2 linked regions of the Homo sapiens genome follow. The protein of the gene in region 1 purifies or fractionates together with the protein of each later gene. This does not show direct contact. Each region holds a gene or a part of one and is shown on either strand. Other genes may lie near its edges. The genes, in order: RIT2 and LZTR1.

The links.
Region 2: the proteins of RIT2 (region 1) and LZTR1 purify together in Homo sapiens (affinity purification with mass spectrometry; 3 studies listed by BioGRID and IntAct, with this or other methods). This does not show direct contact.

What each region holds. Positions count from the first base shown.
Region 1 is NC_000018.10:43,103,834-43,114,311, forward strand, and holds part of RIT2 (GTP-binding protein Rit2), read right to left. Parts: intron 1-10,478.
Region 2 is NC_000022.11:20,992,297-21,001,395, forward strand, and holds the end of LZTR1 (leucine-zipper-like transcriptional regulator 1), read left to right. Parts: coding exon 1-73; intron 74-497; coding exon 498-608; intron 609-1,365; coding exon 1,366-1,458; intron 1,459-1,627; coding exon 1,628-1,723; intron 1,724-1,807; coding exon 1,808-1,973; intron 1,974-2,261; coding exon 2,262-2,431; intron 2,432-2,573; coding exon 2,574-2,730; intron 2,731-3,449; coding exon 3,450-3,576; intron 3,577-3,666; coding exon 3,667-3,816; intron 3,817-4,399; coding exon 4,400-4,505; intron 4,506-4,589; coding exon 4,590-4,670; intron 4,671-4,935; coding exon 4,936-5,052; 3' UTR 5,053-6,736; downstream 6,737-9,099. Other genes in the region: THAP7 (THAP domain-containing protein 7), read right to left, coding at 7,584-8,136, 8,351-8,491, 8,960-9,099. UniProt on the Homo sapiens protein: Substrate-specific adapter of a BCR (BTB-CUL3-RBX1) E3 ubiquitin-protein ligase complex that mediates ubiquitination of Ras (K-Ras/KRAS, N-Ras/NRAS and H-Ras/HRAS).

The sequences.
Region 1 (10,478 bases):
CAAAATGGTATTTCAGGACGGTGGTATGAAGTGGTATGAAGAGCAGGTAAGAGTGGGATATGGGGGTTTAAAAGATGATAGAAGAAATCCCACTACTGGGTATTTATCTAAAGAAAAAGGAGTCAGTATATCAAAAGGATACCTACACCCCCAAGTTTATTGCACCACTACGCACAGTAACTGAGATATGGAATACAACGGAACGCCCATCAACAGATAAATGGATAAAGGAAATGTCATATACATACACAATGGAATGCTATTCAGACATGAAAAAAGAATGAAATCCTGTCATTTGCCACAACATGGATGAACCTGGAGGACATAACGTTAAGTAAACTAAATCAGGCATAGAAAGATAAATACCAAAAGTTCTCACTTGTAAATGAAATCTAAAAAAGTTGATATAGAAGTAGAACTGTGGTCATTAGAGGCTGGGAAGAGAGAGGGAGGGTAGGATGGGGAGAGTTTGGTTAACAGATACAAAATCACAGCTAGATGGGAGGAATGAGTTCTGGTGTTCCACAGCGCTATATAATGAATGTGGTTGGCTATAATTTATTGTGTATTTTCAAAAAGTTAGAGAGGATTTTAATGTTCACAGCACAAAGAAGTAATAAATGTTTGAGGTGATAGATATCCTAATTACCATTATTTGATCATTATACATTGTATACACCTATGAAAATAACACATAAATACATATGATTATTACTTGTCAACTAAAAATGAAAGGGAAAAAAAAAGATGCTGAGGTATTCCAGACTTCTGTTACTCAGAATTTGCCAATATAAAATCCCTAATATTTTTCCACTGATTTCAGTCCTAAGATAATTATATTGGAATAAAGTATGAAATATTTCTAAACAGTAAATAAATAAATAAATAAATATAATAGGCAGGAACCAATTAGCTGAAGTTTTTACAATTTCAAATAAAAGATGTGCCCTTTTGCTACCAAATAAAGAGCCTGATTTCTTCAATTAAACAAAAATCTGTATCCATGTAGCTTATTATTAGCTTTTCCTGCAACCATTAAATATGACTCTTTCCCTTTAAATGTTCAGTGTTGCTACTATGGAGAATGGAAGACATGTCATATTACTCAAAATTTATTAAAACAATACACAAATTGGAAAAATTAATTTCAGTCTGGATTCAAGCAGAGGCATGCTCTGTTAAAAGCCATAGCCCCTCTAATCAGGCCCTTTGTGGGCTATTGTAGCAGGCAATTGTCCTCCAGTCCTTTCTCTAACAGGCAGTGTGCTGTGTGTGTGTGTGTGTGTGTGTGTGTGTGTTTGTGTGTGTGTGTGTGTGTTTGTGTGTGGTATGGGTCAATTAGGATGAATAAAGGGATTGTTTACTAAGGTAACTAGTAAACTACTTTTATTACTGTCACTGAAATTACCACTCAGGAGACCAAAGCAGAAACTAATCAATATAAGGATCTAGAGAGCAAGAACAAGAATAGAGCAGGTGCATATACAATGGCAGTTTTACAATATTCAACCCAAATTGTATTTTCCTAGGACCTATCTGAAATATGTGTCACTACTCTTCCCTATGTTACAGAGGTAAACTGCCTTAGGTGGAGGCATGGAAGGAAGGAACAAAAAAAGGAAGGGAGGAAGGGAGGAAGAGAGGAAGGGAGGAAGGGAGGAAGAAAGGGAGGGAGGGAGGGAGGGAATGAGCAGTTTTAATGAAGGTGTAATATTGGGCAATATAATCTATAGTTTTTATTTAGTATTTTCCAATGTCATCTACCCAGCAATTCTCTGAGGATATTTTAATTAAAGCCCTTAATGAGGAAAAGGGAGACTCAAAGAGCTTAAGTGACCTGTGCAACGTCAAGTGTTGTTAAGGGTAAATAAATAAAAACAAAGCTATCCATTTACGTTATAAACTTTGTCCCACAGTTTGTGCCAGGCTATGTAATTAATATTCTGAGTATGAACCGTTACAGTAGTTATTATTGTCATCCCCATTTTACAGATGAGAAAAGACAAATATGGATTTCCTGGGTTACCCAAACCCCCAGTTCACATTATTCTGTCATCACTTCTATGGTAGGGCTTCATTCTACAGATTGAAGGTTGATCAAAATAATATATGGTAACGAGCACAGTGGACAGTGGTTAAGGGCCTCAGCTCTGGCAGTGGTTGAGTCCTGCATAGTCACCTCAGGCTCTGGGTTCCTGAGTGAATTACTCACCATCTTCAAGCTTTATTGTTCTCATCTATTAATTAGAGATATTAACCACACCCACACTTCTGGGTTTAGTGAGACTTAATAAATTAACATATTTAGTGCATTTTGAACAGGGTCAGGTATATGCAAAACTCAGAAGTGTTCACTTTTATTTTGCCATTCATTGCAGGAAGAAATTGAAAGAATAATAGTTTGGACAAAACAAGAAACATTCCTCTTTTGTGAATGCACGCAGATTTATGAACACAAACACACACTTTATTGCTCATTTTAAAGCATATTAAGAGGAAATGTGAACTGGTAAAGTGTCTAAGGACTTCTGATTCATTCAATAAGTGACTACCCAAACATTGATTTTCACATATACAAGAAATCTTCTGATAAAGAACTTCCCTCATCCACCACCACCACAACTTCTCTAACTATAATTGTTAAAAATCTTTATTCGGCGTTCCATTGTAAGACCACAAATTATCTACACTATCTCATTTCAGTTCAATTAAAGATTTTTTCCTGGGACTGCAAATATAGTTTTCTCTCTGATTTCCTTTTCAATGCAACATCTCCAGGGAGGCCCCAGTCCCCCACTCCCCCTTCGGCTTTACATCCTTCATGCATACTTTAGGAAGAATCAGGTTTCTATCTGCCCAATACACATGGCAGTGGCAGGATGCTGAAATGCTTGGAGTATTTGGGGACCAGAACTATCAATACTCTCACGCTGAAGCTGTGGTGTTAGCTGAAGTAGAATTATAGTAGGCAGAAAGGGCAGAAATGATGGTCTGGCAGAGTGACTAGCAATGGCACTTAGCTGGTCCCTGCTGAGCAATGAGAAGGACAGGTAGCACTGTTTGGTCAGGGTCACCAGAAAGCTGGTATTTATTTATGAGGAAAGCCCAAGTGATTGAGTAGATATCATTGATGGGCTTTGCAAATAGCCAGATTCATTGATAAAAGTGCACCTTCCATGTCTGTGAGCAGTACAGAGGACCACCGTCTGTCAATGTGTACAGTCGCAATCCCACCACACTGCAAACACACACACGCACAGAAATAATCGGTCATAGGCAGCAGGTTGATCTCCAGTGAGATTTTATGCTGGTTTATGGGAGGCAAAATGGCCTATTGGAAAAATTCATGCTCTAGAAAGTCAGGAGACTCTAGTCCCAACGCTACAGATGAACAGCTGAACAATGTATGGTAGGTCATTTTATCTTTCTAAGCCATAGTTCTCATTGCTTCCAAAATACCTCCCATGCATCTCTATCATTGCCTCACAAGTCTGTTTATACATCTTGTTTGTTACCCTGGTGGACAGGGCAGAGGCTGTGTCTAATTCTTGGTCATATCTGTGGGCTTTTCACAGGTCTAGGCGTGCACGCGTGCGTGCACGCATACACACACAAACACTCTTTTGTCAGTTTCTATTAATTATTCCAAAATGTATATGTTTAAAGAAAGTATGCTTCCCTAAGCAAATCAGCACCTAATTTCAAAAATCGGTATGGTTTACTCAGCACCCTGTTTACTTTCTTTGTTTGCATGATCCCAGGTTTCAATAAATTCCTATAATTACTGGGTTACTTGGTTTTCTCAAGTTGAAAGGAATTGTCACCTTCTCTCTATGTGGTTGAGGCCCCCAGGGGTCTCTGAATAGACAAGAACAAACCAGTCTTTGGCACCTCCATGCTAAATTGTTTAGTCAGAGCTCCTCATGCCACTCACTACCCCATCTAATAAGCGTAGCACTCTCCGTTGTTTGTGTAGAAAATTAAAAATATTAAAATATTTTCATATAGACGATTTTGTGTGATGTTTAAAATACATGCATGAAAATGTGGCCGGGTGCAGTGGCTCACGCCTGTAACCCCAGCCCTTTGGAAGTCCGAGGCGGGTGGATGACGAGGTCAGGAGATCGAGACCATCCTGGCTAACACGGTGATACCCCGTCTCTACTAAAAATACAAAAAAAAAAAAAAAAATTAACCGGGCATGGTGGCGGGTGACTGTAGTCCCAGTTATTCGGGGAGGCTGAGGCAGGATAATGGTGTGAACCCAGGAGGCAGAGCTTGCAGTGAGCCGAGATTGCACCAGTGCACTCCAGCCTGAGTGATAGAACGAGACTCCATCTCAAAAAAAAAAAAAATGCAGCTGAAGTTAGAACTCAGGTTCACTGTATCATGTCTTCAAAAAATAAAAACTTTCAGGTGAGAAAATAAAAATAATGTAAACATCGAACTTAGACATCCATATGTAGGCACATTAGGTTCATCATTTAATATCTATGTGCCTTGGGCCATATTACGTGTGTGTGTGTGTGTGTGTGTGTACCTCAGTTTTCTCACTTATAAAACGCAGACAGTAAAGCCTTCCTCACAAGATCAAGGCAGGGTGAGGGGTATAGTAAGGCAAGGGAATGTGACAGACCATCAGCCAGCAAAACACCAAAGCAAATGCGTGAACGTAAAGAGCTCAGCAACATGTGGGCTCATTGAGGGATTATTACATGCTCGTTCATCTCCAGTCATAGATGGGGCAGACATATCATATAGTACTCATGTAGAGCTGTAGAAACTCTCTTTCATCAATTTAAAATCTACAGAGTGCATATAATCTTGGAGATGTTGTCAATCAAAGCCTTTCGCCTGAATTCTGTTTTCAATCATTATTTGAGTGAGTAGATACCAATTTACTCTTTTACTGAGCCTTATTTAGACCTCTTGGCTAATGCTTCCTGACAGTATTGCAGTGAGTGATGGTCTGCAGTACAACTGAGGTGGTAACAATTAAGGGTGAGAACAGAAGGCCCTGGAATCTTAAAATCTTTTTGCTTTCCCCTTGTTTATTTTGTTTCTTTTGCCTTACAGTCCACAGGGTTAGGATAACGCATGGCCACGATGTGACAATTGTTGAGCTTTGTCAGACTCAAAGTTCTGCTAATGAAGTAAAATACAGAGGCTGTGGGACATGAATGATGCACTTGGTTGCTTGCCTTGATTTAATTCATCAGATAAAGGCTCAACTTCCTACCTGCTTTCCTAATTCACTGAGGTGGAAGGAATTGGTTGTGTGCTGCTTTCCGTTTACCTCAGAGATATTGTTACTGCTTTCTCTTTATAAAATCCTGCTACATGAAACTGAATTTGCAGAGGCAACAAACTGCACATGGCCGTGGGAGAGAATATGTTTGTTTATTTTAGAAATCAGTTTTTTCTTTACAAAGAATTCACAATGGAAACATTCTAATAAATTCTGAGTTCCCTAATCCTTTTTGGGTTTTCAGTTTATTTGTGTTGTGTAACTTTTTCACAGTTAACTGAAGCATCTATTGAGCAAATCTCAAAAGATATTTTTTCAACTACCACTTAGAGACACTAAATTATCAAGATGCTGCCATTAAAAATTATAAGCCTTCAGATCCCTTTGTGCCCCTGTATACACTGTTTATGTTCAATTCTTTCCCTTGGATCTCCCCATACTTTTCTTCTTCAGCATCAAAAAAATCCTCCTCATCCTTTAAGACATAATTTAAATACCATCTATGCTGTGATTTCTTCTCAACTTTCACATCTCTTATAGCCACCCCTTATACTGAGTTTCCAAAGCTCTTACATCAGAAGCCTAATATAAACTTATTGTTTTGTATTACACATTACAGCAAATTTTCCACCATGAGATGGTGCACTCCCAGAGGTCAGGAATCACCTGAAATCATAGTTGTGAATAACACTCCCTCCCTGCTCAATGACTTGCATAGTGTTTCATACATATTTCACATTTGAAGATGTATGTTGACAACATTTCACCAAATAATTCCAAGATGTGTCCTAGGGACCAGAGAAGGACATAAAGTTCTCATCTGACATTGGGAACCTTTTTCTGCTTTTCCCATACAATTTGATAGAAAAACAATTTAGATGTAGAAAGCCTGTGTTCATGTCCAGTCCTTATTTTCTGACTTTCCTACTAGACAAATCTCTTGATAGTTCTGTGCTTAGATACCTCTCCTACTTGCCTTCTTACTTTGTGATCAAATAAGATCATAATCAGAATAAGTAAAATGTTATTTTTACCCCAATTTTATGCGATAATATCTTATTTTGCAAAATATGATCATTATGAATCTTAAATTATTTAAATCTTAAAACATTATCATTATGTTAAGTGTATGCCTGTATACGAATATTTCCTTAACTCCATATATATATATACCCACTATGTACCCATAAAAATAAAAAAAATCAGTAAAATAAAAACCTACTAACTTAGAATAAATCCCAAATGCAGATATTTTCCAAAATACCTGGAAAATAAGATATTATTTTTATTAAATAAAATCTGTTGAATAAATTTGATTCTGAACTTGGAGAACCAGATGTGAAGCCAAGGAAGACAATATTTCATCATGCTCTGGCATTGAGGAACGGCCTTGCTGTTTCAAACCACAGTGACAAAGGTCAATATTTGAAACTGTTATAAGGATTGTTTAGGCTCCATAAAACTTTAAAACTGTAACCATGAGATTATTTTTATTTTTATTTTTTAGGGTGGGTGAGTGGCGGGCAGTGGAACAAAATGAGATAGAAGGCTAAAAGAAGATGCCTAAAAGATGCCTAACATACTGAACTTTATTGGATAATTTGTCTTTTTTGTTGTTTTCTTTTGGTTTTAGTTGTAATCACAGTTTGTAATATAAGTTTCTATTCTACTGTCATTTAATGTTATTTCACTGAATGTGTATGTGTGTATATATATGTGTGTTGTTTCTTAAGTAGTTTTCTCGTCATGAGTCTTATTTTTAAAATAAACTTTATTGTGTATATTTAAGGTATACAATATGATGTTGTGGGATACACATAGATAGTAAAATATTTACTATAGGAAAACAAATTAGCATATCCATCATTTCACATAGCTACTTTTTATAGGGGGTGGCAGTATCAGCAGCTAAAATCTACTAATTTATGCAGCACTAGCAACAATAGCCAAGATTTGGAAGTAACTTAAGTGTCCATCAACAGAAGAATGAATAAAATAAATGTGGTATATATACACAATGGAATACTATTCAGCTATATAAAAGAATGAGATCCAGTCATTTGCAACAGCATGCATGGAAATGGAGATCATTGTGTCAAGTGAAATAAGCCAGACACAGAAAGACAAACTTTGCATGGTCTCATTCATTTGTGGAAGTTAAAAATTAAAACAATTTAATTCATGGAGATAGTAGAATGATGGCTACCAGAGGCTGGAAAGGGTAGTAGGAAGAGGGAGTGGAGATGGTTAATGGGTACAAAATTGTGGTTAGATGGAATGAATAAGATCTAACATTTGATAGCACAACAGGGTCATTATCATCACAAATAAGTTATTGTACATTTTAAAATAACAAAAAAGTATAATGGAAGATTTATAACACAAATAAATGATGAATGTTTGAGGTGATGGATACACCATACCCTGATGTGATTATTATACACTGTATGCCTGTATCCAAATATCTCATGTACTCCATAAATATATACATGTATAAAATATATACACCTACTATGTACAAATAAACATAAAAAAATCTACTAATTTAGCATAAACCCCAAATAAAATATTATTACCTCTAGTCCTCATCCTATACATTAGATCTCTATACTTGTTCCTCCTAAATGTCTGCTACTTTGTATACATATCTGTTACTTTGTATGGTGCAGTTTTGATTCAGCTTACTCTGTGTAAAAATTGGGGAGTGATGGAAAAGCAGCTTCAATGGTGTCAGAAGGACTGGATTCTGGATCTGACTCTGCCACTGCTGTATAAATGACCTTTGCAGGTCTCTTCACCTCTCAATGCCTCAGTTTGGCCATTGTCCAAATAATTCTTGTGTATCCCTGTTTTCTCTGCAGTTAGTAACATTCTTGGACAATATTACATATAATTATAAAAATATAAATACAAATATTAATATTATATATTTATACAGAAGTATTATGCATAGTGTTCAATTAGGTTAAAGATTAAAGCGGCATAGATGTATAAATCAAAGTGATAGCCTAGATGGTTAAGATCTCTTCTAAATATAACATTCGAGACCTAGGAAATGCATTATCAATGGATCTGTTTTCTTCTTACTAGTGAGTGATGCAACTCTTTGTTCTTCTCAGAGCATTAAACATAATGTAGTAGAGTTAGATAAAACATCACAGAACTCTAAATTATTACCCCCATGACCAGGCACAAGTTATTTTTCTGACCTCTGTTTTTTCATCTGTGAAATAGAAATACCGACTCTGACTGTGGTTAGGACTGAGTATAAGCGTGAAATACATGTAGCCCATGCCTGCCATGCAATGGGGGCTTCATAAATGTTTACGTCCTTCATAGTAACTAGTATAGGACTGTGCATAATACGTGCTCAGTAAACTTTATTGATTACTTGTGGTTTAAAATTCCTCACATAAAGTACATTCATTAACTGACATATTTTAAATCTTGTGGGAATTCCTATTTCAGTAAAGTTGCAAATTCTTTTAAAAGTTTCTATTAAAAAATATTTTGGTAAAACATGGACAAAAACATTTCTCAGGCCAGGCACAATGGCTCATGCCTATAATCCCAGCACTTTGGGGGGCTGAGGCAGGAGCATTGCTTGAGGCCAGAAGTTTGAGACCAACCTGGGCAACATAGTGAGAGCCCATCTCTACAAAAAGAAAAATAAAAAAGAATAAATATTAATATACATAAAAAATCTCCAAGATTTTAAAAATTATAGTCACCATAAATTTAGTTTTTAATTCATGTTTAAGGCTGACTTGGACTTGACTCTCAGAATTGGAAACAGATGGTAGCTTGATGCATCTTCTTTAGTTTCTTCAGAAGAGCAGATCTCTTCTGGAAATCTCTTCACACAACCCAGGGTAATGGGGTTATACAATCCCTTCATATACCTCTGTTGATCTAAGTCTTTGATATGAAAAGTAGGTTTTAAAACGTATATTTTAGAGCCATGATCATGCCACTGCACCCCAGCCTAGGCTCAAATGAGATAAAATAAACCATGTATATTTTTAGCTCATTTGAAAGCAAATATTTTAACCTTCAATAGAAGGTTAATATTAAGAATCAGTGCTTGAATGTTTATATGCTGATGGAAGAACATCAGGTAAGTCACAGGGGAAAGTCCAAGGACCAGATGATTTTCTCACTGTGATTTCAAACATTTAGTCATAAGGACAGCATTTTCCAGGTGTGAAATTGTAGTATGAGAAATATTCTCTGGTGTAGTAGCCAAGGTTGCCATTTATATATAATCAATACAACTGAGCTGTTTATACTCCTTATCCTTATCTTTCTCTGAGAATGAGCTGGTCATTCCTGTCTTTTCATCTCACAGGAAAAGTTTTGTTCAAGTACTTAATTATGAATTGACTTCTATTGTACAAAGCAAAGATGAGAGCAAGCCAGGCCACTCTGTGGGCCATGTGTCACATTGAAAATCCATAGTCATTGGAACAGTAACAATGATCTGTCAGCACAAATAATACTTGGGAGAGATCAAAATAGAAGATAAAATATCACCACTATAATATCAGCAATATCACAAGAAAAGTGTGTTGCTGAAGGATGTTCCCGTCCAAAATCTCTTTTCTCCAAGTTTCATTTAGGTGGAATAAATTGAAGTAGGCTAAAAATCAGTCACTCTATCCCCACATCCCCCAAGCTCCTAAAAGCAAATACCTAACCAGCAAACAAAAGCAATACAGAGGCACATTATTGCGACAATTTCAGCATCTCCCTGACCTCACAAGCTGCTGGTGGCATTTAATGTGGATTGGTCTTTTGCCTGTTTTTTTTAAATCTGTTTTTCTCTCTTCTTCAGTATTTTATTCTCACATTGTTTATTTCTTTCTTCCTCACTGTATCTGACTGGATTCTTGTAAAGTATAACTTCATTTTATATAGATCATGTTGTCTCTATCCTTCCTCCATCCCTTCCTCCTTCCTTAAATCCTAACCTATTTTGATTCCTTCCTTCTCAAATCATTATATTTAGAGGAGAAAGCTTTTTAAAAATTCCTCATTTATACACAATTACAAAGCTTTTCTTTCATATTTTTGCCTCCCTAGAAGAGATGAATAATTTTTTTCACTTTGATATGCATTTTGCTACTGACCACATCCAGATGTACCTATTTCTTTTATTTTTTATGAGAATTCTCTTTTGTAGGGTGAGGAGAAGAGGTAGGGGTGCTGAATTTTATGTTTCTTACTATCT
Region 2 (9,099 bases), on another chromosome or scaffold:
GAAGTCCCGAGATGTGTTTGGCCTGGACTTTGGCACCACCTCAGCCAAGCAGCCCACCCAGCCTGCCTCGGAGGTACAGGCTGGGATCCTCATTAAGACTCCATCACCCCCTGAAACAGGTCCTGTGATCAACACCTCTCACACATGGGGAGACTGAGGCCCCGAGAAATACTTGCTTGGGGTCACACCACAAAGGGGGTACAGGGCCAAGGGCCCTCACCCTGCTGGCCAGGCTGCAGCTTTCTGGGGTGGGTGCCACACACTGGCCCAAGTGCCCTGACCACTCTGAGGGTCTCCATGGCCCGTCATGCCCCACTCGCCTACATGGGTACCAGGTCCCACCTGTGTCTGTACCCAGGGGCCCTCATCCCTTGGGGACCCTGCCCCCTGGCCCTTCATGGCCATGAGGTGCCGCATCCTTGCCTTACCTGGCTGCACCAGCCGCACTGTGGAGGCTCTGCTCCCCCACCATTCCACCCTGCCTTCTTGTCCCCCAGCTGCCCAGTGGGAGGCTCTTCCACGCGGCTGCTGTCATCTCGGACGCCATGTACATCTTCGGGGGCACGGTGGACAACAACATCCGCAGCGGGGAGATGTACAGGTTCCAGGTGTGGGGCCTGTGGGCCTGTAGAGCCGGCTGGGTGGACGGATCCCCCGTGATGAGAAACTGAGGCCAAGTTGGGGGGCAGGGCTTATCCAGGCCATTGCCAGGGCCACACCTGGCAGGATGGAAGCCTTGGGAGGAGCCCTGTGGGCTGAGGGTGGGCTGAGGTGGCACTAAAGTGGGCAGCCTTCGTGCAGTGGGGCAGGCAGATGGTGCTGGGGCTCACGGCAGAGTCAGTGGAGGGAGCCGGGCCAAGCTGGGCTCAGCACCAGAGCCTCACAGGCATCATAGCCTGGCCCAGGGCAGAGCCAGGGCCGACAGTGGCTTGCGTTGACAGCCCCTTCCCAGGCCTGGAGGAGCAGGTGGTCAGGGCAGGGACTCACAGCCACAGTGAGGTCAGGGCCAGCTTCCTGGAGGAGGTTGGGATGTGCTGGTGGGGGCCAGTGTGAGGACGCAGGTCCAGGCAGAGTGGAGACGGCAGAGCTCTGCTGAGGCCTGGGGCCCAGCCGAAGGCAAGAGAGGCAGGGGAGCCCTTTCCTGCTGTGGAGCCGGCCGTGGACAGTTGCAGGTGCTGAGGCTGGAGCCAGGCTGTATTTTCAGGGTGGGGTAGCGGCTGCTTCCTCTCCTCAGCCAGGCCCACCTGCCTCCTGGGCCCTGAGGGTCAGCATGGGCCAGGTGGGGACCTCAGGGTCGGCCTGCACAGCCACACTGGGGCCACCCTGCTGTCTGCAACATCTAGTCTCACTGGGCCCCTCTTGCAGTTCTCCTGTTACCCTAAATGCACGCTGCACGAGGACTACGGGCGGCTGTGGGAGAGCCGCCAGTTCTGCGACGTGGAGTTCGTGCTGGGTGAGGTGGGTGCCTGTCCTCGCACCCTGCTCTGCCTGCTGTGCCTGGGCAGTGGGAATTTCGCCCCTCAGAAAAACAGCTGCTGGCCTGGTGGTGCTGACCTTGGCTGGCTGGGTCTCTGTTCTCTGGGGCGAGGGTCCTGTGCCCTCTGCCAGTGCATCATTCTTTGTGCAGAAGGAGGAGTGCGTGCAGGGCCACGTAGCCATTGTCACAGCGCGGAGCCGCTGGCTTCGCAGGAAGATCACGCAGGCGCGGGAGAGGCTGGCCCAGGTGAGGTGCCTAACCGCCCTGCCCTGACCTGGCAGCCATGCCTGGTGTCCACTGGGGTGTCCTTGAGCTCCCTTCTCCCCACAGAAGCTGGAGCAGGAGGCCGCCCCAGTTCCCAGGGAGGCCCCCGGCGTGGCTGCTGGTGGGGCCCGGCCGCCCCTGCTGCACGTGGCCATCCGGGAGGCCGAGGCCCGGCCCTTCGAGGTGCTCATGCAGTTCCTCTACACCGACAAGATCAAATACCCACGGAAAGGTCCGCCTGGGTGGGGGTGGAGCAGGGTTGGTGTGGGCTGGGGTGCGGGCAGCAGAGCCAAAAGGTGGGTGCTGCCAGCCCTGCCTTACTGATGGGCCCCCTGAGGCTCAGAGGCTGCAGGTCACCCTCCTTACCCATGATCACTGCAGCTGGACGCCATCTGAGTCCCCCGAGGCCTTGTTCCTACCTAGTGGCCCCAGCCCACACTCTTCCATGGGGGGAGCCCTGCGCCCTGTGCCCTGCCCTCCCCTCTCCGGCTCCCTGAGATTCGGGGGCTCTGGGGCGCAGGCCATGTGGAGGATGTGCTGCTCATCATGGATGTGTACAAACTGGCACTGAGCTTCCAGTTGTGCCGCCTGGAGCAGCTGTGCCGCCAGTACATCGAGGCCTCCGTGGACCTGCAGAACGTGCTGGTTGTGTGCGAGAGTGCCGCCCGGCTGCAGCTGAGCCAACTCAAGGTGTGGGGTGGGGTCAGCGCAATCAGGGTTGGGTGGGGTGTGCTCAGGCTTAGGCCCCCTCCCTGCCCACCACTGTGAGCCCCTCGCCCAGCCTGGGGCCCTGGCTTGACTCTGCCTGCCTGCCTGTGCCTGTCTGCCCCAGGAGCACTGCCTGAACTTCGTGGTAAAGGAGTCCCACTTCAACCAGGTGATCATGATGAAGGAGTTCGAGCGCCTCTCCTCTCCACTGATAGTGGAGATTGTGCGGCGGAAGCAGCAGCCGCCCCCTCGCACTCCCTTGGACCAGCCAGTGGACATTGGTAGGGAGCCCCGTTCCCCTTCCCTGGGGGCTGGGAGGGATGGTGTTCATCTGCGGTAGGAGATTGGGAGCCATGGAGAGCACCTGCCAGGCCCTCGGGGTGGGGGTGGGTGCCATGGGACCCCAGAGTGCTCTCCTGGGTACAGGGAGGAAACAGATGAAGGCAGAAGCCCCCGACCCATGGGGCTTGCCACAGTGGGCTGTGTCCTGGTGACCTGGGATTTCCTGAGCCAATTTCTGGGGGTGGACATGGGGCACCTCTTTCGGGCTAGGATGTCAGGTCTGATGGCCCAGGGTCACGGTGATCAGTCTCTGGACTTCTCTTTGCTTGTAATGTCACAGGCCCCTTCATTCCCCCAGCTCTCCCTGGGGCTTGTGCTGACCCCGGTTGCTGGCTCTTGGTGATGTCTGCAGGCACCAGAGGCCATGCAGTGGGCCTGGAGGGGGCTTGATCATGAGGTCAGCGAGGGGGTACAGCAAGCTGGGTGGAAGATGAGACGCTGGGTGGTGGGCTGTGCGTGGGGCATAGTGCTTGAGTCGGCCAGGGCGCCGAGGGAGGACAGAATGTGGCTGATGGTACCTCAGGGCGAGTGAGGCCTTCTGCCTGGGTGAAGTTTTGTTCAGGGCAGCAACATGGGCAGATATGCAGGAAGGTAGTGCCGTGGGGCCCCAAGGCCAGAATCCCAGGCTGTACCTGCTCAGGGACCCTCCTACCCCCAGGCACATCTCTGATCCAGGACATGAAGGCATACCTGGAGGGAGCGGGCGCGGAATTCTGTGACATCACTCTGTTGCTTGACGGGCACCCACGGCCAGCCCACAAGGCTATCCTGGCCGCCCGCTCCAGGTGGGTGGGGGCTGGACAGGAGGGGAGGGTGGGCCTGGATGGTGTCTTCGTTCTGCTGACGGCCAGGTGCCTACCGCTCGTTGTCTGCAGCTACTTTGAAGCCATGTTCCGGTCCTTCATGCCCGAAGATGGGCAGGTGAACATCTCCATCGGGGAGATGGTGCCCAGCAGGCAGGCCTTCGAGTCCATGCTGCGCTACATCTACTACGGCGAGGTCAACATGCCGCCCGAGGACTCGCTGCATCCTCACTCCCCAGTGAACTCCCAGGTCCCCACCAAGGGGTCCTGGCACCCACCTCAGGTGGCTTTGAGGCCCGCTCTCCTGCCCCAGCTAGGTGATCTGGGCCCAGCGCCTCCCTCCAGAGGGTTTGCTGGTGCCTGGGGCTGGGCCTGGTGCTCTCTGAAGCAGTTGGCAGCTGGCAAGGAGGGGTTTGCAGCCAGGAGGAACCAGTGGGTTCCTGACCCTCACAACTGCCCAGAGGACGGGGTGGGTCATTGCTTTGTGTGACAGTTGAGCACAGACATGGAGGTACTCCTTATGTCACTTCAGTAGGGGTCTGAACATGGAGGGTCAGGATGCCTGTTAGGCCTGCAAGGCCATGGAACAGCGCTACAGATGTACAGACACTATTTTTCTCGGGAGGGGATTCATGGTTTTCTTTGGATCCTGAATGGGGCCTTTGACCCACTAAGTAGTTCAGAATCCATTTGGAGAGCATGCTGGCGTGGGGGCTTGGGGCTCCAGCTGCGCCCTTCCCTGTCCTTCCCTGGGAGGGTGCGGGCGGACCAGCTTCCTTTAGTCAGCTCCTTAACCAGGCCCCAGCTACTTGTTTGCGGCCCCCTACTACTACGGCTTCTACAACAACCGGCTGCAGGCGTACTGCAAGCAGAACCTGGAGATGAACGTGACGGTGCAGAACGTGCTGCAGGTAGCCCCCCAGCCCCGTGCACATGGCTGCAGCTCCCACTGAGTGGGTGAAAGGGGCAGCGCCTCAAGGTCCCTGCCATTGCAGATCCTGGAGGCAGCTGACAAAACGCAGGCACTGGACATGAAGCGGCACTGCCTGCACATCATTGTGCACCAGTTCACCAAGGTCAGGGCTCTGGCCTCCCCTTCAGGACTCGCTTCCCCTTGGCAGTGGCCATGCCCAGGCAGGGAGGGTGCCCAGGCTCTGTGGTCCCCTGCAGTGGTGGGCCCTGGGGGTGAGAGAAGCAGAGCAGCCCATCACTGGCCGCACCTTGCTTCATCCTTGGGACCAGCCTGAGCCCTGAGCAGGGTAGGCCCCACAGGGCTCCACTGCCCACCATGGCCCTTAGGTGGATCTGGTCCCATCTCCTTCCGGCCTGCTTGCCTTACAGGTCTCCAAGTTGCCCACCCTGCGGTCGCTGAGCCAGCAGCTGCTGCTGGACATCATAGACTCCCTGGCCTCCCACATCTCAGACAAGCAGTGCGCAGAGCTGGGCGCCGACATCTGAGGCCCTGTGGCGCCTGCCCATTGTGAAGAATCGCCGTGCCTGCCTGCCCTGCCTACTGAGAAGACTACCGGCTATGCGCATGCCTATGGCAGTGGGTGCACCTGCCAGGCCAAGGGTCAGGGTGCCCAGAGCCTCCAAAGAGAGCTGAGGGGATGTGGGGCCCCAAACTCATTAATTCACTGAAGACACAGGTCCCACAGGGAGCGGATGATGAAGCAGACCCCCTCCTGTCATCACCCTCTCCTGGTGTAGTGTGGATGCGAGGCCACGGCTCAGTGATGGGCTCACCACCCAGAAGTGGGGAGAGACTTTGGGCCTCCCACCCAGTGGGGCTTGGCCTGGCTTCTGTGGCCTGGGCGTGTTGTGGACTCAGGCACTGGGGCCTGTCACCAAGGCTCCTCCAACATGCGGGAGGAGGCTTAGCAGACTTGCGCTGCACCAGCGAATCTGCCTGGGCTGCTCCTGTCCCACCCACCCTCACTGAGATCCATGTAAGGGGCTCCTCTTCCCACCTGGAACTTGTGAGTGGGGACCCATGATGTATGGGTCTCACCTGACTTGAGGTGAATTTTGGAGTGAAGGGCCCTGAGGTCAGCTCCCAGGTCGGTCGTGCTGGGCCAGGCCTGGTTTTCACAGGGGCTGAAGGATCCCAGTCCACCTGTGTGCATGTCAGGGCTCGGCCGGGAAGAAGCCAGCAAAGTCCCCCGTGTCCCTTGCTGAGTATTCTGTCACAGACAAGCCTCCATTAAAGCCACAGCAGTGCTACCCACCACACACACCTTGCTGGCCCGGCCACCACTGCTGGCTTCAGCCCCTTGAGCAGCCCATGGCTTAGCAGACCCCCAGATGTAGGTCAGTGGCCTTACCTGTCTCTATCCATGCTGTCAACTCCTGCCTCCACCTGGGGTCACCCAGTCACATTGGGAAGGGCTGTGAAGGCCTCCAGGCTGGCCCCTTCCAGGGGAATCCTGGAGGCCTGGGGTGGGCTCCTGCCCCTTCTGCCCTGCCTTGCCCCTGCACTATGCTCTTGGCTCCTGTGGAAGGAGGGCTGCCCTCTTGCCCTAGTGAGGGCCCCATGTGGATCCACTCTAGTGCTGGGAGCCAGCGCTCCCTTACTGGGAACAGGATTCCAGGACCCCTTTCTTGTTGTGGCTGCCATGAAGCCACAGCTCCTTGGGGAAGTGACCTGCTCTCCTTTGGGTGTATGCAGGTGTGTGGGGGGCCCTGAGTGGCAAGTTGCTTAGCTAACAGGAGATCCATAGGCAGCCTGCAGGCTAGGAAGTGGCCTAGTGCAAGATGAGCTGGGAACAAGGGAGGAGAGAGCAGGAGCTGGGGCAGAGGCTGAGCCGGGAGGCCCTTGAGGTGAGGACACAGCAGGCCCAGGACCATGGCTGGGGAGGATATGTCAGCACCTGGAAGTGGAGTGCAGGCTGCAGCGCCCAGCCATGTGGGCCAGGTGCATTCACTCAGAGTGGGGCCACACACCCATCTACCCAGTTTCCACAAGATGTGGCTCCTGCCACACCCACAGGGCAGCCTCCTCCAAATCCCTCCTGGAGGGGCCTACCCAGAAGCCTCCTTGAACCAGTCTGCAACCCTGCTCTATGCTGACCCTTGTCACTGAACCCTGATCTAGACTTATATGAATAAATGAAATTACATGCCAAGGGCCCTAAAAAGCAAATTTTACGAAATTGTGTGGCAGTTTCTGGGACTAGAATGAATTTCATTTGTGCTCCTCGGCAGGGAGAGGCCATACTTGCAGTGAGTCACCCCAAGACGGAGCTGTTTGAGAACTGCAGCTGCAGCAAGGCCTTCCAGGTTCCTGGGAGTTGAAGGAAAAGGATGCTGAGGCCAGGACCTGAGTGCTTGTCTCCATGTTCTGGCCACCTCTTCCTAGATTTCCAGGGACTAGCTTGTTGGGGCTTTACTACCTGCTGACATGACCCAGGAGGTTGATGATTGTCATCATCATCCCCGTTTTTCAAATAGAGATGGTAGTGAAGGGGGCGGGGAGAGGGTTGTCCAGCTTACCCACCAGGCTGATGGGGCCTGTGGACAGAAGCCTGTCATGCTCCTGCTTGAGAACCGGATCTAGACTGGGTTTTAGAAGTGTTCTCAAAGGGGCTGGCTGGTTTAAGTCAGGGCTGTTTCAGATCCTATGGAAAGGGCGCCTGGAGCTGTCTTCCTGGCCCCTACTCACACCATCCTGCCCCTTCAGAGAACCCTGTGGGGCACGGAGCTGCGCTAGCAGGGCTGACTGCCACCTGTCTACCAGTAGCTCTGAGGGGTGAGAGCCAGGCTCCCTGTTCTCCTTGGCAAAGAGCTTGGACTGAGCCCTCTAGGAGCTGCAGCCACTGTCTGGGGCAGCAAGCTTAGTACTCAGAGGGGCTCCAGCCCCCAGCTGAGCCAGACAGCAGGCCCTCCGTCTAGAATCCGCTTTATTATGGCACCTGGTGGGTCTGGTGGGATCTGAGGGAGGAAGAGGCTGCAGTCTTGCTGGGCAGCCCCTCGGTCAGTCCAGCAGCCCCTCAGGCCATGCTGCTGCTCAGCTGCATGGCAAAGTCCTGCACATGCTCCTTCAGAGTCTGGCGGGCATCTGCCTGTGCCCGCTTCTCCCGTGCCCGCTCCTGCTGCAGCTTGGTCAGTCTCAACCGCAGCCGCTGCTCCCGCCGCTTGCAGGCCTGCAGCTGGCGCTGGGCCTTGTCAAGGGCATCAAGGGCTGCCTCGGCTCGCCGCTTCCAGAGTAAGGCGCTGCCCACCTGGTAGCTGTGTTCATTCTGGATGTAGGCTCCGGCGGGTGGGGGCAGGCGCAGCATATACGCTGAGGGGGAGACTGGCCGTGGTTCGAGAGGGGAGGGCTGCCGCTCTGGTGAAGGCTGGGCGCTGCAGCCTGCTTCATCTGCCTGGGCACCCAAGGGGCCCAGTAGGTCTGAAAAGGGGCTGCTAAGGCCAGGCTCCAGCCTCCCAGCTGGGGAGGCCGGCAAAGTGGCAGGTGCTGAGGCCTCTTCCACAGGAAAGCAGGTGACATCAGCAGGTGGAGGTGGAGAAAATGGAGTTGTGGGCCCTCGGCCCTCGGAGCAGCTGGTAAGGGGGAAGAGAGAGACTGATGGGCTAGGCTGAGGGCTTGCCAGACCCCCCTCCACCAGCCCACCTGATCCACCCTTAACACCCAAACCCGATCCACAGGTTCTGTGTAGCAAGAACCCTGTCCAGCGAGACTGCTGGCAGACACCCCTAGGGCCCAGTCCCTCAGCCTAGGGGTGGGAGTGGGGCATCCCCCACCCATATCACATACCGCTTCCTGCATCGTCTGAGCCGGCTGACTTCAGCGGGGCCAGGTGGGTAACTGTGTCCTTTGGTCTTGGTTGTCCGGCGCAACTTGGAGAAAGACTCAAATATGGTGGGGACTGCCCCCTCCTTTAGCCTGTGATATCCACTGCGGGGAAAAGCAACCCAGATGAGCTGGAGAGCAAGTGCTGCCTCCCCAGGCCAATCTGCCCCCAGCAGCAGCGCCGTGGGATGCTGGAAGGCATCGTGCAAACAATACGTCTGGGGAACGCCAAGTTACAGCTACACCAATCGCTTCCCCGCAGGACTCCTCACAGTCCAGGTGTGTGGAAAGCCTGCATAAGCCGAGCTGGGCTGACCAGCCAGAAAGAATTCTTTGATTTGTGGACTTGCTGGCAAGACTGGGGCTCTGAAAGATACTCTCTGGAAAGGCTCCTGTTTTCCCCTTGTGTCACAGGCACAGTGATCCTGGGGGTGGGTTTCACTGTGCAGAGCTGGGAACAGGAAACAGCCCCCTTGGACGCAGGCTGCTCAAGGGACTTCCATGACCTGCAGCTGTCCCAGTCCGCCGGGAGCCCCACATCCTACCCCAGCGTCGGCCGGCAGGGAGGCCCACCTGATTCCCACCAGCTCAAAGCAGTCCTCCTCAAAGTGTTTGGAGCAGAAGTAGATGTACTCGGATGCCGGGTCCCACAGGCCCTGGCCGCTGGGGTCCAGCCGCTGGCAGTTGGCCAGCCACAAGCCTCGCCTCGGGTT